2 separate regions of the Homo sapiens genome follow, and region 2 is linked to region 1. Evidence: fine-mapped expression QTL. Tissue or cell type: whole blood. Region 1 holds a variant in brackets; the other region holds the start of a gene. All regions are shown on one strand. Distances are between the middles of the regions. Region 1 overlaps LAPTM5 (lysosomal protein transmembrane 5). Region 2 holds the start of LAPTM5 (lysosomal protein transmembrane 5).

Region 1 (8,327 bases):
CACCTGCTTCCTAAGGCTGCTGTGGCGGTCGACCAAGGTGACGGCTGTGCCACGCTGTGCTCGTGTGTGTGTGGAGGGTGGGATCATTATTCCCGGATGTGTGGGTGCTGTTGGAATTCCTTATGTCCAGAGACATTGATGTGGCCCCCAAATCTGTTGCAGAATTACCTCCCCAGCCAGGAGGATATGCCTCATAACCAGTTCATCAAGATGATGATCATCTTTTCCATCGCCTTCATCACTGTCCTTATCTTCAAGGTGAGTGGATCCCTGCCCTGCGGCTCTGGGAGGGGTGGTGAGGCTGTGCTGGGCCCAGGCCTGCCCATGCCAAGCTGTTAGAAGGCAGGGACATGTGTCCTCCATGCCTCCTCTCCTGCTTTTAGCTCCTTTCTCTTGCTTTCCCATGCCAGCTCCTCTGACTTTACTTGGGATCCTCCGAGACAGCCCATTTAGGGCATGTGAATCCGTAAAGGCCACCTGCGTTCAGATGTCTAATTCCAGCTGTCTGGAATTAGATTTGGACTGGCCTGCGTTTGAATCCAAGCCCCACTGTCACTAGCTGCGTGGTTGGTCTTCAGCAAGTCACTTCTCTCTGGGCCTCAGGGGCAGGAGTCTTGTTTTGCCTGTGTTACAGTTTTATGTAATTCAGGCATCAAAATGTACCTGAGATTATGTTAATAGAGGTTTGGTGATGAGAAGGCAGGAGGGGAATGGTCTCATTCTTCTCTGGGGTGGTCAGGCCCAGAGGATAGGGTCCAGCTTCAGGTCCCAGGTCTGAGTGATGGTGAAGCACTGGAGTGTGTTCACAGCAGTACAACCAGCAACGTGAAGAGACAAGAAAACGCTGCCATCTTAGGAAGTCAAAAAACCCCCACAAAACCCAACAAAGACCTGAGCGTTTATTCAGCATGGAAAATAGAGGACTCAAGGGGGACCTGACTGCTGTTTCTTAATACCTGAAGAACTCTTGTGGGGAATTTTGTGGGATCCTAGAGGCCACAATGGGGGCCTGTGGCCTGAAGCCACAGGGATGCTGATGACCACAGAAGGAAGGGCTTTTAAAAAGTGTTCTTTTCTGATTATAAAAGTAACATAGGTCATAGTAGAAATTTAAAAACTACAGATGAGCTGGATGTGGTGGCTCACATCTGTAATCCCAGTGCTTTGGGAGGCTGAATTGGGAGGATTGCTTGAGGCCAGGAGTTCAAAACCAACCTGGGCAACATAGCAAGATTCTGTCTCTACAAAACATAAAAAAAAAAAAGTTGGATGTGGTGGCGTGTGCCTGTAGTCCCAGCTACTAGGGAGGCTGAAGCGGGAGGATCGCTTGAGCCTGGGAGGTTGAGGCTGCAGTGGGCCATAATCATGCCACTGCACTCCAGCCTAGGCGACAGAGTGAGAATCTCTCTCTAAAACAAAAAACAAAAACCAAAAAACTACAGATAAGTAGAAAGAAGACAAGCACTCCACCATCCACACCCCACACAGAGAGCATCACTGCTGACAACTGGGTGCATTTCCCCCCAGCCTTTCTGTGGTGGTGGGTGGGCATCTGCAGACCCCAGCTCCTGCTTCCATCTGAGGCCCTGGGCAGTCTCTGCTGTCACCTAATGCCAACCTAGAAACAGAACCTTGCCCCTTTTAGCATCTTCTCCAAGGACTGACCTAGCACAAACGCACTAGTGAGTGTACAGTGAGAACACCCCTGAAGGCCTCATGGGGGAAGCCAGTGTGGGCTTTCCATGGCACTCTCTACTGCAGGACCCCTCCGCAGACCCCAGCACACAGCTCCGTCCCCCAGCTCCCCTTCTGTTTTTTATCCTCCAGAATGAGGGGCTTCCCTCTTTGACCCTCATTCTGCCTCTCTGGCCCCCTCCACCGACTTGATTTTCCCTGGGCCTTCATGCTTCATTCTTTGTCACTCCGTACCTCCATATGTCTCCTTGCCCCACCTATGTGCCCATCAGGGAATCCATCAAACAAGACCTTCCAGTACAGGACCCTCTCCTCTTACTCAGGGGGCATCCTGGGGGTTTTCTGTTGTTTCTTGAGCTTGCCCCTTGGGATTGTATGCCCCACTCTGGAAAGCTTCTGCCCAATTCTTACATTAACTTGCATCAGCTGATGGACATGTACTAACTGTTCCTCCTTTATAAACATGGACCAATACTGCACATGCTGTTTTGTAATCTGCTTCAGAAAACAACATATCGGAAGCAATTTTGAAGAAAACATGTCCCACCATCAGCTCTGTTTCGAGATGGGCAGGGCTGTCTCAGGAGGTAGTGAGCTTCCAGGCAGTGTGGGCAGTCAAGCAGGAGCTGTGGGACTATTGCCAGGGAAATTGGAGGGTGGGCTAGAAGCCCCCCAAATCCCCTTGCTATGTGGTATCTGTGGGGCAATGAAAAGGGCAATACCTGGAATATTCTGGACTGGCTGGTGAGGAACCCCCAACCAGAATGAGAGGTCCGAGCAGGAGCAGCTGGATGCTGGCTTCTGGAGAGAGTGGTGGCTCCTGCCTGGCATATGTCCTAGGCCTGCTGGAGCGTGAGAAGGACGCTCAGCAAAGCACAGCCTGACCTGGGCCTTTTTCCAGGTCTACATGTTCAAGTGCGTGTGGCGGTGCTACAGATTGATCAAGTGCATGAACTCGGTGGAGGAGAAGAGAAACTCCAAGATGCTCCAGAAGGTGAGTGTGGCTGCAGGTGGGTGCCAGCCCTGTCACTAACTCCCTGTGCCATTTGGGTCAAGTTTCCTTCCCTCTCTGGACCTTGGTTTCTCTATTTGTAAGATGAGGGTTGGAACAGAAGAAATGTGTTCTCTTTCAGTTCTGGTAGTCTAAGATTCATTCACTCACTCATTCATTTATTCAGTATTTACTGCCTCTCACTCTTTGCTAGTCTCATATCGATTCCAGGAGGCGCAGAGAAAACTAAGATGCCACCTCTGCCTTAGAGGAGTGTACAGTTCAGACACATAGATACAATTACAACTTGGTGTGAAGCACAGGGACAATAAGCACAGAGGAAGGACCTGGCCTCTTCTCAGGTATCAGGGAAGCCTTCCTGGAGGAGGTGACAGTTAACTGGTCTTGGAGGGTCAATGGATATGAGATAGCTGGGAAAGCAGAAGGAGGCTTTCCGGGAAGAGAGGATGAGGTGTGCTTAGAAGCAGCTTATTGGAAAGTGACGGTTTAAATTCCTGGTAACTTACTTTCCTCACCTGTAAGGTGGAGATTGTATTAGCTAAGACACTTTTGGTTGCAAGTGGCAGAAACCCAACTCAATCTGACTTCAGGAATTTACTAGCTCACAGAACTTAGCAGCCAAATGTAGGTCTGGCTTGGGCCTGGCTGAGTCCTGACATCAGGATATGATCTCGTCCTCTCCAACTCTTGACTCTACTTTCCTTGATGTTGGCTTCATTTTCCGGAAGCCCATCCCTTGTGGTGGCAAAAAGGCTGCCAAAACCCCTAGGCAGATATCCCACCCTCTCAGAAATCCCAACAGAAAAAGAAGGTCCCAGGAGTATGTCTGATTGGACCAACTTGGGCCACGTGCCTATCCCCAAACCAAGGACTATAGCCAGGGGGATGGAATTCTACTTTGAGTGGCCAAGTCCAGCCACCTCGCTGGATCTGAGGGATGGGACCAGTTCTTCTGAAGGTATATGGACTGAGAATGTTTTCCCAAGGAAAATGGTGCACTGTTTTCAAAATAAGGGGGACTTGATGCTGAATAGGCAAAGGCAAATATGTCCACTACAGGGCTGGGAACTGCACCTATCTCATGCAGGCAATGTCTAGCACATAGCAAATATCCAAGACCTGCCAGTCATTATCATCATCATTTTGCCAGAGGTGGGGGTTTGGGTCCCATGACCCCAGGTTGGAATTGCAGGTCATTCTTGACCATACTCAGCCCTCATCTCTCTGTCTCTCCCAGGTGGTCCTGCCGTCCTACGAGGAAGCCCTGTCTTTGCCATCGAAGACCCCAGAGGGGGGCCCAGCACCACCCCCATACTCAGAGGTGTGACCCTCGCCAGGCCCCAGCCCCAGTGCTGGGAGGGGTG[G/A]AGCTGCCTCATAATCTGCTTTTTTGCTTTGGTGGCCCCTGTGGCCTGGGTGGGCCCTCCCGCCCCTCCCTGGCAGGACAATCTGCTTGTGTCTCCCTCGCTGGCCTGCTCCTCCTGCAGGGCCTGTGAGCTGCTCACAACTGGGTCAACGCTTTAGGCTGAGTCACTCCTCGGGTCTCTCCATAATTCAGCCCAACAATGCTTGGTTTATTTCAATCAGCTCTGACACTTGTTTAGACGATTGGCCATTCTAAAGTTGGTGAGTTTGTCAAGCAACTATCGACTTGATCAGTTCAGCCAAGCAACTGACAAATCAAAAACCCACTTGTCAGTTCAGTAAAATAATTTGGTCAAACAACAGTCTATTGCATTGATTTATAAATAGTTGTCAGTTCACATAGCAATTTAATCAAGTAATCATTAATTAGTTACCCCCTATATATAAATATATGTAATCAATTTCTTCAAATAGCTTGCTTACATGATAATCAATTAGCCAACCATGAGTCATTTAGAATAGTGATAAATAGAATACACAGAATAGTGATGAAATTCAATTTAAAAAATCACGTTAGCCTCCAAACCATTTAATTCAAATGAACCCATCAACTGGATGCCAACTCTGGCGAATGTAGGACCTCTGAGTGGCTGTATAATTGTTAATTCAAATGAAATTCATTTAAACAGTTGACAAACTGTCATTCAACAATTAGCTCCAGGAAATAACAGTTATTTCATCATAAAACAGTCCCTTCAAACACACAATTGTTCTGCTGAAGAGTTGTCATCAACAATCCAATGCTCACCTATTCAGTTGCTCTGTGGTCAGTGTGGCTGCATAACAGTGGATTCCATGAAAGGAGTCATTTTAGTGATGAGCTGCCAGTCCATTCCCAGGCCAGGCTGTCGCTGGCCATCCATTCAGTCGATTCAGTCATAGGCGAATCTGTTCTGCCCGAGGCTTGTGGTCAAGCAAAAATTCAGCCCTGAAATCAGGCACATCTGTTCGTTGGACTAAACCCACAGGTTAGTTCAGTCAAAGCAGGCAACCCCCTTGTGGGCACTGACCCTGCCACTGGGGTCATGGCGGTTGTGGCAGCTGGGGAGGTTTGGCCCCAACAGCCCTCCTGTGCCTGCTTCCCTGTGTGTCGGGGTCCTCCAGGGAGCTGACCCAGAGGTGGAGGCCACGGAGGCAGGGTCTCTGGGGACTGTCGGGGGGTACAGAGGGAGAAGGCTCTGCAAGAGCTCCCTGGCAATACCCCCTTGTGTAATTGCTTTGTGTGCGACAGGGAGGAAGTTTCAATAAAGCAGCAACAAGCTTCTGTCTGGCTGATGTGTTTCTGGAAATACAGTGTAGGGAGGGTGGAGACCAGCCTTCTACCTCCATCACCCCAGGACTCACCCACACCCCCTACACCCACACCCCTCCACACACTCACACCCACCCCCACACACCCACAAATACACCCAAACACCCACACTCCCCCCACATACCCACACACTCACACCCTCCCCACACCCCTCCACACACTCACTCCCACCGCCTACACACCCACACACCCCCCATATACCCACACACTCACACCCCCCACACCCCTCCACACACGCCCACCCCCACACACCCATGTAAACACTCACACATACCTAGTTGCTCCATCCAGAAACTCCTCCCATGGGCCATGCTGAGCGAGGGGTGGTCCTGACCCAATGCTGTCTGATCATGAACCACAGCCCAAGATGATGCACCCTGATGTCTCCCTAATCAGGCGTGCACTCCACTCCCCTGGGGCTGGGTCCTGCTCTGGACACTGGGGAAGACCTCAACAGATGAGACTCGCCTCCAGTTCCCCCCAGTCTGCGGTAGGAGGGACAGATCTGCAAAAGGGCTGCCACGATAGGGAAAGCCTAGGGGACCTCAGACGTGGCCTGAGGGCCAGAGAAAGCCTCTTGGAGGCTGTCACCAAGTGGAGTCTGAAGGATGAGAAGGCAGCAGTAAGCAGAATGGGAAGGGTGCTCTAGGTCTAGGTAGCAGGACACGCAAAGACTCTATGGCATTGGGGAGAGGAGCTGGGGCGAGCTGCTCAGCGTGGCTGCAAGTGGGGAGGGGAGGGAGAAGAGGTCGGCCCGCTGTGGGGCTGGGTCAGGAAGAGTGTTTGCACACAGTGGGGCTCTTTAGGTGCAAGCTCACCCTGGCTAAGTTCAGCCAAGAAGGGAATTTACAGGAAGGACATGGTTGCAAGTAACAGAAGCCTTATGAGCCAAGTTTATTATGAGAAACCAGAAGGTGGTTCACGATGTTTCTTGGCTCTCATACAAATAAAAAATCCAGGGATTTTTGGCTTCAGGTATGGCAGGATCCAGGACTACAACTCTTTAATAATGTCTCTCTGTTTCTCCATCTCTTATCTTTTCTCCCCGGTGTGGCTGAGCTGTTGAGGACTTACCTGAAAGTAAAGTTAATAAAGAGACCAGGGCTGTTTGAATTGGGATCTGTCACCAATACCAAAAGAGCCCTCAGAGCCTTGAATGTCACACCGAGGAACATGGACTAATCCTGAGACAGGTGTCTTTGAAGGATTTTGGGCCAAGGAGTTACAAGGTTTGGGTTTTAGGAAGGAAGAGCCCAAATGCAGGGACCCCTACAAAGGCTGGGGAAGTCATCCTATGGGGCGGCAGGGACGGGGATGAGTTTGAGAGGCATTGTCAACCTTCTGGTGGTGTCAGTTTTTTTGTGGAATGGCAGATTTCTTCATGGATGTTATTTGCTCCTTATCAGACCCCCAAGCAGTTGGTGCAGTGTAATTCACAGAAATGGAAAGCGAGCTCCTGTTCACACTTGAGGGCAGAGGCCCAGAGACATCAAGTGACTTTCCTGAGGCCACACAGTGGTCAGAGATGAGACCAAGCACCTTTTTTTTCTACTCCGAGTGGAGGCTTTTAGACGGGCTGGGGCCCAGTCTGTGTCAGTTGTTGCTTCTTGCAAAGACCCATGGGAAGAGGGCCCGCTGAGAAGCCCCGGCAAGTGTGGATTGGGAGCAGAGGTCACGGGAGGAGAGACATTGGCCCAGCCTTGCATCCTATCACAAGGAGATTGAAGGGCCATGGCTGCGTGTGTCACAAGGACCAGGAGGCCCTGAACTTCCCGGCGCGACTCTCCCGTCCTTCCCGCCTTCCCCGACTCCCACCTCTGGCCTGGAGCCGAAGAACAGGCTGAGCTGTGTAGTGGGATTGTGCCCTGTGGCCAGGCAGCTGGGAGGGGGCCACCCGAGGGACAGGAAATAGCTGGGTTTGGGGAAGTCCGCATGGCTAGCCAAGCCAAGCGAGCCCACGATCGCCTGGGCAGCCCTCACTGAGGCCCTATCAATGCCCCGTTTGAGGCTCACACAGGGGTCCTTTGACGGGGCTGCGATGGTTTGGACCCACTGACAGCGCCTGTTTGAGCTTCATGCCTGGAAAGGAGCCGGCCCCAGGACAGAGGGGGCTGCTTCCAGGCCTGGGCAGGTGAGGGCAGCCTGGAGTGGTTGTCTCTTGGAGGGAAAAAAGAGCTGGTAAAATTAAACCTGGGGTGCTAAGCGGGGCAACTTCAGGTTTCTCGGGAGCTGTGATGGTAGCAGGAAGGGTCCCCGTAATTGAGTGGGCCCTTCAGTGTGCTGGCTCCACAAAGCTCCCAGTGGCCTCACGCAGCAGGTGCTGGGTGGTGATCATTCCTGAGGTTCAGGGAGGGGCTGCCTCTGCCCACAGTCACGCATTGGCCAAGGGGCAGACCTGGGCTTGGACTTCAGTCCACCCAAATGGACCTGAGCTTGTCTCTCTAGACCTTTCTGGGTAACCTCGCCCTTCCTCTGGGAATTTCTACCTCACAAGGCCCTCATTTAATTCCTATTCCAGGCTCTGAGCCCTCTTGGGAGGGCCCTGGCAGAAGCAGGAGGCCTCAGAGGCAGCAGGGAGCTTTTGGATGTTGCGGACCCTCGGATGGTGGTGCCCAGCTCTGAGCAGAGGATGCGAAACGGGGGATGGCAAAGGATGCATCGCGTTTTGGTGGGGCTAGATTTGCGCTTCCTTGGGGGACATATAATGGGAGGTGCTCAGGAAGCAGCTGGGTCTCTAGGTCTGGAGTTTAGGAGAGCGAGGAGGGAGGCAGGTTGAGATGTGAGTGCTATCTTTGGACATGTGGGTGGGATATCAGGTTGGGCTGGTATCACCCAGGTGTTAACCCATCAGAAGGATGTGCTGCTGCTCCGTGGCCTCCCCAGACA
Region 2 (8,327 bases), 25 kb before region 1:
AGAGGCTGGTGCTTAGGAGGGAATTACCTAGTCCTTGCAGCAGCACACTGGATGCGCTATGACAATCCCCACTCTACAGCTCAGAGTGAGGCAGAGGCTGGTTGGAGACCAGGGCCAGGAGGGAGCCGGGTTTTCCAGCTCCCCATGGATAGTACGGCTGCACCCATGATCTAAAATGCTCCGTCCTGGGGTGTGCCCAGAGCTGTTATTCAGCAGGAGGCTGCTGGCTCGGCTATGCAGACTTTGCAGCCAGTGCTCCTTCTGCCTGCTGGTCCCATCTCCCTGGAGCCTTCAGCCTGCAGTGCCTGTGGCAGCAGCAGACTAGGATATGGTGTCATTGTGCCCCTGGGTGCAGCCAGGGACCCCTGGACTGCCTGGCTGAGGGGAGGCCTCCTTGGAGTGTCTGGCAGACCGTTGGGGTCCCCTGCCTGCCCACTGGACTCAGCAGCTGGTCATTGGAAGGTCTGGTTGTCCCCAGGCCACAGGCCTGTGGGCTGTCCTTGCCAGGCTGACCCTCCAGGCTGACTTCAAGGCCTGGGCCCCTTCCACAGGCAGGGGAGTAGGGGAGGGACCCTGTGGGTTGCACGTGTAGGCCCTGACCCCTGGTGACCGTGCTGGGTTCGGGGCAGGAGACAGGAGAGAATGCTCTGCCGTTTCTCACATTTTTCAGGCCTTTGGCTTTGGCCCTACACATTCCAGCCCCAAACCTCAAAGGCAGAAGTGAGGTGGGGCTTGCAGCCAGAAGGGAATCACAGGCCAGTGGTCTGGCAGGAAGCTGACCTTCAGCCTGGGTGAGCTGCAGGGGGCACCCAGGAGCCCCTCGGGAGAAGACAGCCCTGGAGCTACCTTGGCTGCCACCACTCACATGCCGCCCACGAAGCTGTCCCCAAGGAGGACCTGTGTCCTGGCTCTGCTCCTGACCAGCTGTGTGTCTTGCAGCAGATCACTGGCCCCTTGGGTCTACGGGAGCTGATCAGTGCCTCTCTGCTGCCTTCCTCTGCTGGCTAGGGCTGGGGGAGGCTCAGCTGAGAAAGGGTTTAAAGGACAGGAAGAATCATAGTGACAATCGTGATCAAAATGCTTCCCACTGTGCAGTCCTTACCGTGACCCAGCCCCTTCTAAGTGCTTCATCTAGGTTAATGGAAAGGACACAAGACTCCCAAACTCTTTGTTTAAATACAAAAGCTGGCAGAGTCGTGGGTTTTATTTTTACCTCCAGGCCTATGGGTGAAGAGGGAAGTTCCAGTGATGTTCTTCTGACTTAACAAAGAAAGCTTACAACTAATTCTGCCTTTGAGGAAACAGAGCTGTCTGTTTAAATATTCATATACCATGGCAGCAAATTATTAAGCCAGATAACCAGCCAGAATTACAGACCTTTTCAGGATTAAAGATGACTCTCTAGGATCTGGGAACCATGTCTGAAGTCAGGGGGTCTTAGAAGATTCCTTTGTCAGAAATAACATTGACAAGGGCAGTTTGACAAGCAGATTTGTATCTGCTCTGCCGTGGCTGCGGTGGCATGGAACATTTCCTTGTCCTTATCTTGATGAATTCAGAGGGTCTGAAGTTTTCAAGGGTTCTACCACTCCACAAAGAAGGTATGAAAAGCAACTTGAAGAAGCTCAAAACTTATCATTCGTAACGGAAAACAGCAGAATATAAATAGTGAGCTTATGTGGTGTTGCCACCTGCATGTACAGACAACGAGATGGGCATTATCATTATCCCCGCTTGGCGCAGGAGGAAGCGGAGGCTCAGGGAAGTTCACGACTTGGCTGGGGTCACACAGCAAGGAAGTAAGGGCTGCACTTGTGCAGATGGGGACTGTGGTCTCGGTGGAGTGTGTTGGGCTCCAGCGACGGGGCCCCAGGCTCAGCTGTTGCTTCCACTGAGCAGCTGTATTTGTTCCCTGCGGCCGCTATAATAAAAGACCAGAAACACAGTGACTACAACAGACATTTATTGTCTTACAGTTCTGGAGGCCAGAAGTCAGGAATGCGCCTCGCTGAGCTAAAATGAAAGTGATTCCCTTTCGAGCCTCTAGAGGAGAAGCCATTTCCTTGCCTTTTCCAGTTTCTGGATGCCGCCTGCACTCCTTGGCTCATGGTTCTTCCTCCAACTGCAGAGCCAGGAGTGTGGCATCTTCCACTCCCTCTCTGACTCTGATCTTCCTTCACTTATGGGGACCCATTTGATGACCTCAGGGCCATCCAGATAATGCAGGATAATCTCCCCACCCACCTCAAGATCCTGAATTTCATGGCGCCTGTGAAGTTTCTTTGCCATGTAAGGCCATGTACGCACAGGTTCCAGAGATTAGGGTGGATTTTTTTTGGGGGGTGAGAGGCACTATTCTGCCTATCACAGTGGCTTTGGCCAAAGGGTCTGACCTTTGGGATAATAGCCGTCCTCTCCACAGGGGGTTTGTTGGGAATGACAATAAAGTGATTCAGGCTTGTACTCCACAGGGAGTGACTGAGGTGCCTGCCAAGGGGCCAGTGTGTGCTGGAGCCTGGTGACCCGGTGAGAGACAAATGACTGCATCAGAACTCCTGCTTCTGCGAGGGAGGTAGTGCCCGAGGGGACTCAGAATCAGACAGATCAGGGGTTCAATCCCAGCTCTGCCTCCTCCTAGCAGCCTGAGTACGGGTGAGATCGGGGAGCAGGGACGGGCTGGAAGGGAGAAAACAAACAGATGCATTCACGTGACCTCATTTCACCTTCACCGCAGCCCTGCCAGGCAAATTTCTGTTCCCCCCAACCGCCCCGCCGTTTTGCAGAGGTGAAAACAACAGCTCAGAGAGATCAAGTGCCTTGTCTGACACCACACAGCTACTAAGTGGGGAGCTGGGATTCCCCATGCCCCAGGATTCCCAAACGGATGCCACCTACTCCACCTCCAGGGCTGTCTGCCACATCTGCGTCCTCCTAGGCTGTGGCTTCCTTAATATGTTCTTTAAATTGACTTACTGCCTTTTTTATTTAAATGCATTTCTTTTAAAATGAGACTTTATATTACTCCTATAAATGGAAAATCACAGGATTCATGGACTAGTTATGTATATTTTTATAATGCACATTAAAATGAATTTATCACCATAAAAAATGAGAAATGTTTACCCATAGACCATGTACAATTATTCCACATGCTGTCAGTGTGTTTCATCCCTCTCTTTGGGAGTTGGCTTTGCACCTGTCCTGGTTTCACCAAATCACAATGTTATGAATGGCTATCATTTATTATGGTAGGAAATCGTCAAATGGCTTCTGTGCACAATCAAATGCAGACTCCCCAGCATGGCCTCAGGGCCCTCCTGGCCCCTGGTTTCCTGATCTCCAGTTCCTCTGGTCTTGCTACTCTTAGACAAAGGAGGACTTCTCTTGGTTTTCTGCCTACCCAGCCAGAAGATCCCAGGCCATGGGCCTGTGGAGCCAAAGTTCTTAACCACTGCACTGTGTCACCTTTCTATGATGTCAGGCCTCAGCAAGGCTTATGAAGGAACAGGAACAGCCTTGAAAATGAAGTTGGGAAGGGATAGGCCAGGCCTCCCAGGAGCCCAAAGCTTGCAGAGTCCCCTTGGTCTCATTGGCACATGGAGAATGGATTGATCAAGTCCACCAATCAAGTTTTGTGGGTCTAACAGAGCAACTCCTGCCAAGTGGGAGGAGCTTAGGGACTTTCTATAACCTCTCCTGGGGCAGAAATGATGGGCTGCAGCAGTGTCCAATCCTAACTCCATGATCTCCTGGGAGGGCAGGGCTTCATGGCAGTTCCTGTCTGCTCTGCACTAGAAGCTTGGCATTGCAAAGGGGCTCAGCTGTGGAATGAAGCAGGGCTTCTTCCAGAAATGTTGCATGTACTTCCTATTCCCTTTCTTTATTGCAATATGGATAATTTATCATCTGAGGAGGGAGTAGAGATTCCAGGGTAGCTTGCCTAAGAGTTGTGGCTTATTAATTCCAACTTTTTGCAAGATCAAGGGGGAAAAGCAATCCCTGATTTTGTGTGAGTATGGGGATTGGGTCTTGAGGCCCTGAAAGTGAGGTTCGGGTCTCACAGATTGCTGTGAAGAGTTATTGACCCACCTAGAAGAGAAGCCTAGCCCAGGGCCTGGCGCACAGTTGATGGGTTTGCTTCCTGGTTATTCTTCCGTCCTTGTCTGGAGCCCTGCACGCCTCTTCGTAGCTTAGGAAGAACAAGCTTCTCCCTGCGGCTCAGGGTGAGGAAGTGGGAGAGAACACCAGCTCCAGGGAGGCTTCTAGCACCAGTCAGCCTCAGTTAAAATCCTTGCACCTTCATTGACTAGCTGTGTGACCTTGCACGAATCATTCCCCCTCTCTGTGCCTCAGTTTCTTCATCTGTAAAATGGGGATCATAATAGTACCTCTCTCAAAGGATTGAGGTGAGGATGAAAGGAGTGAATCCAGGAGCATGCCTGGAAGAGGCAGGAAATGCCTCCTAGACAATAGCTATTTTTGCAGCCAGACAGATCTGGGTTTGAATTCTGCCACCAGTGCTAACTACTGTGTGATTTGGGGCAAGTGCCTTGACCTCTCTGGACAGCTGTTTCCTCATCTGGAAATGGGCTTGGTAACAGTCCTGGCTTCCAAAGTTGGTAGTGTTCTTCTAGTAAGCAAGCTGTGTGAAACGGTGGAACCCTGGCCCTGGTGCAGAGAAGGGCATGATGACCGTGTTAGGGTCTGTCCTCTCTGGAACCCCCTCCTGGGAATGGCAGAGGGCAGTGGGGTGCTCTGAGGCAGGCTGCTGCCCTGTCCCCACTCCCCCTCCCCAGCTGCCCCGCCCCAGCTGTGACGACCTTGTCCCTGCCTGTCTAAGGGGCAGGAAGGAAGTGAGGAGGGCAGCCAGCAGCTTCCCCTTCTCTGCCCTGCTCCAGGCACCAGGCTCTTTCCCCTTCAGTGTCTCAGAGGAGGGGACGGCAGCACCATGGACCCCCGCTTGTCCACTGTCCGCCAGACCTGCTGCTGCTTCAATGTCCGCATCGCAACCACCGCCCTGGCCATCTACCATGTGGTGAGTGTGCGGGCCCCGGGTGTGTGTGCGTGCGTGCTTGTGTGAGTGTGAATGTCTGCGGTGACCCGTCATCTACGGAGCCCCACAAATGAAAGAACTCCTGCTCTCCACCTCTCTGGGGGACCCTGGGCAAATCCCTGTCCTGCTCTGGGCCTCAGTTTCCTTCTCTGTCAAATGGCTGGGGGTACCCTGGGGAGATGCCGCAAGAGTGAGGAGTAAGGGAGCTGGAATCCACTTTCCAGGCAAATGTAACTGACGTTCACTCCGAGGCTGGCTCCGTTTCTGCCTCTGTGAGATGGGGCACAGCAGCAGCCGGAAGGTTATTTGTGTGCAAAGCCAACAGCAGATGTGAAAGTGCTTTGGAAGGCAGGGATCTTGGGAGGAACGTGGGCTGGGATTGTTTGACCGGGATGTGAGGTCGGCCGCAGACACAGCCCCGATTCTTCCCCTGGGGCCTGGAGGGAGCCTGGGCCACTCGAGGGGATGAGAAGTGGGGATCTCCCCTTTGTGCCTCCAGTGGGGAGGCAGGGGCCGTGTCCTCTCAGCTTCCAGCTCAGTCAAACCACGGCCTTCTGCCCACCAAAGAGAACTTGAGACCTGTGCTAATCATTAGGGTAACTTGTCCGGCCCAAGCTCTTGTTGGGCAACTTGTGAAGTCACGGCTGTCACTGGTTCCTCCTTTCCTGGTGACTCACAGTGTGGTCTTGGGCAAGTCACAGTGCCCGGGGGCCAAGGCTGCCCCTCTGCCTGGGGTGGCTGAGGGTCAGTGTCCTTGTACTGTCCTGCCTAGACCCACCCTACTCCCAAACTCCTGGCCACACTCATCTCCCCTAGACCCAAGCGACTTCCTCCTGGGGTGACTCAGGGCCTGTGGTTAACAGTTTTCTCATGAGTCTGGAAGGGCTTCCTCAAAATTAGCCTAGATCCACATGCTGCGGTGGGTTGCTGCAAACTCAGACCTGCCTGCGTCTGCTTCCTGTCACAGGCAGGGCAGGCAGAGCTGTGGCAAGAGCCCAGCCTTCAGGGGGGCGATGCTGTTCAGTGGTTAGCCCACGGCCTCTGGATGCAGACTCCTGCATGCAAATCCTGGCTTCCCTGCTTCCCAGCTCTGCAGCCTTGGGCAATTTACTTAACCTCTCTGAGCCTCAGTTTTCTCATTTAAAAAAATGGGGATGTGAATTATCATACCCATCTGATAGGGTTTGTTGTGAGGCTCAGGGAGTTGATACATACAAAGCATGCAGAACCACGCCTGACGCACAGGTGAGTGCTTTATTATTCGTTGTGCATCAGACATGGCACCTGCTGTCAGCATCCTTGGAGTCAAGTTGTCAGATTCAAGGACTCTAGTTTTGGGAGGAGGAACTCAGAGGTTGTCCTTCCGAGCTCCTGCCAATGCAAGAGCTGAGAGAAGCAAATCACTCTTTGAGTGTCCCTGTACCCTGTATTTTAGGCCTTCAAGCTCTGAGACTATGCACATTCTTAGAAGGACAGTGTGGCATGCAGGGGCGCCTCACAGGTAGCAAGTCCCTGGGTCCTCACCCCAGCCCTGCCACTAACTGGCTGTATGGGCTCAGACAAGCCTCTCTCTGGGCCTCAGTTTCCCTTTTATAAAGTCAGGGGTAAGGTGATGTTGACTGGCTCAGAGGTCTCCAACTCTGATGCCTCTAGGGTCTGGGCAGGCCATGTGAGTGACAGCAGGGGGCAGATGGGGCCTGCGGTGACCCCGGGAGCCCTTGCTTGGCCCACCCTGCAGCTGTTCTCTGTTTTTGCTTGTTGTTGCCACGAAGGATTGTGGGCCCTGGTGGCCGCTCTTCTGATGTTTAGAGAATAGGGAGCAGGCTTTTGTGTCACATCTTCTGATGTTTCAATGCTAGTGATTGATGCATGGTAGAAAAAAATCTCAGTGCAGGCCAAGTCAAATCCATTTGCAGGTTGTGTGGGCCCAGAGGCTGCCCTGCAAACCCGGGACTGTGGGGCTGTTAAGGTTTCTTGTTGATCGTGCCATCCGATGTCCTCACCTGTAAATGGTGGTGTGATATACGGTCCCTGCTCACAGAGCTGAAGAATGTGTGGGCCCTAGCAATCATGGAAGACTTCTTGGAGGTGGTGCCATTGGCAGGAGGGAGAGTTTGGTTGTGGGCAGTATGGAAGGTGAGGAGAAACAGGTGAGCAATGGCGTATGTGTTCGGCTTCTACAGGGACACAATAGAGACAAACCTGGAGTTTGGGGAGGAGGTGATAAAGGTTTTGAGTGACAAGCTAAGAAGTTGGATCTTCTCTGCAGTGCACCATTGATATTTTGGGCTGGATAATTCTTCATCTTGGGGGAGTGAATTGTGCGTTAGAGGAAGTTCAGCAGCATCCATGGTCTCTACCTACTAGATACTAGCAGCACTGCCCATCTCCCTACCCTGCCACTTGTGATAACCAAAAATGTCTCTAGTTATGGGGCCCAATCTCTCCCAGTTGAGAACCAATGCCTATGAGTGATGAGACGTTCTAGAGCAGGAGCAAGCAAAAGAGCAGAGGGGTGTCCTGGAAGCTGTGCGCTCGGCCCAGGTTGTCTCCAGGCTGTGGTCCTCAGTTGACTCCAGTGGGGGGTTATCTTCCTGCACCCCGAAAGAGTCCTCTCTCCTTCCCAGAAAGGGCAGGGCCTGGGGGCTTTCCCATAGGCTAGCTGGCAACAGGTGTGCTGATAGGACCTTGAGCATCTGGATGGAAAAAGAGAAGCTGTGGTCCAGATGTGTCAATAGCCCATGCTGGCTGTCATCTGGACCCAGCCATGGGTGACGACTCTGCACATCATGAGCTATTTGTGGACTTGGCCCCTCTAGGGAGGGTTAAATTGAGACCTTGCCATCCTGAGACAGTGCCACGCTCTATTGAGTCATGAGGGCGTTATTACATGAGGGAAGCCTGGTCCGTAGCTTTGGGCTCGGGCATCTTCCTCAGGATGTCAGTGGGTTTGTGTAGAGGATTCTCTGGGTCACCCAAACTTGCACACTTTGGGAACCCAGCAAACTTTCTTTCTTTTTTTAAAAAATCTATTCTTTTTTTCAAAGTTCAGTAACTTGCCCATCTTTTGTGGTTTGATTTGTTTTGTTTTGTTTTTGTTTTTAAGAGATGGGGTCTTGCTCTGTCACCCAGGCTGGAATGCAGTGGTGCCATCACAGCTCACTGCAGCCTTGAACTCCTGGGTTCAAGAGATCCTCCCACCTCAGCTTCCTGAGTAGCTAGGATCACAGGCGCATGCCACCATGGCCAGCTAATTTTAAATATTTTTTTTTGT

Evidence for each region. PIP is the estimated chance that this variant, and not a neighbour inherited with it, causes the effect.
Region 2: it holds the start of LAPTM5, and the variant in region 1 is fine-mapped to the expression of LAPTM5 in whole blood (TOPMed, PIP above 0.99).

What each region holds. Positions count from the first base shown.
Region 1 is chr1:30,729,535-30,737,861 of GRCh38, reverse strand. It overlaps LAPTM5 (lysosomal protein transmembrane 5), which reads left to right. Exons shown (of 8, transcript NM_006762.3): 6 at 163-258; 7 at 2,597-2,689; 8 at 3,945-5,393. The coding sequence ends at 4,034. Among named protein-coding and RNA genes, the nearest start is that of MIR4420, 5.5 kb to the left of the region's middle. RefSeq lists enhancers at 4,037-4,538, 4,579-5,084, 5,085-5,590, 7,260-7,369, 7,520-7,649. The variant G/A (reference allele first, on the strand shown) is at 4,072.
Region 2 is chr1:30,754,367-30,762,693 of GRCh38, reverse strand. LAPTM5 (lysosomal protein transmembrane 5) reads left to right here and starts at 4,920. Exons shown (of 8, transcript NM_006762.3): 1 at 4,920-5,035. The coding sequence starts at 4,949. RefSeq lists enhancers at 3,771-3,840, 4,909-5,188, 5,317-6,113, 6,779-6,828, 7,300-7,649.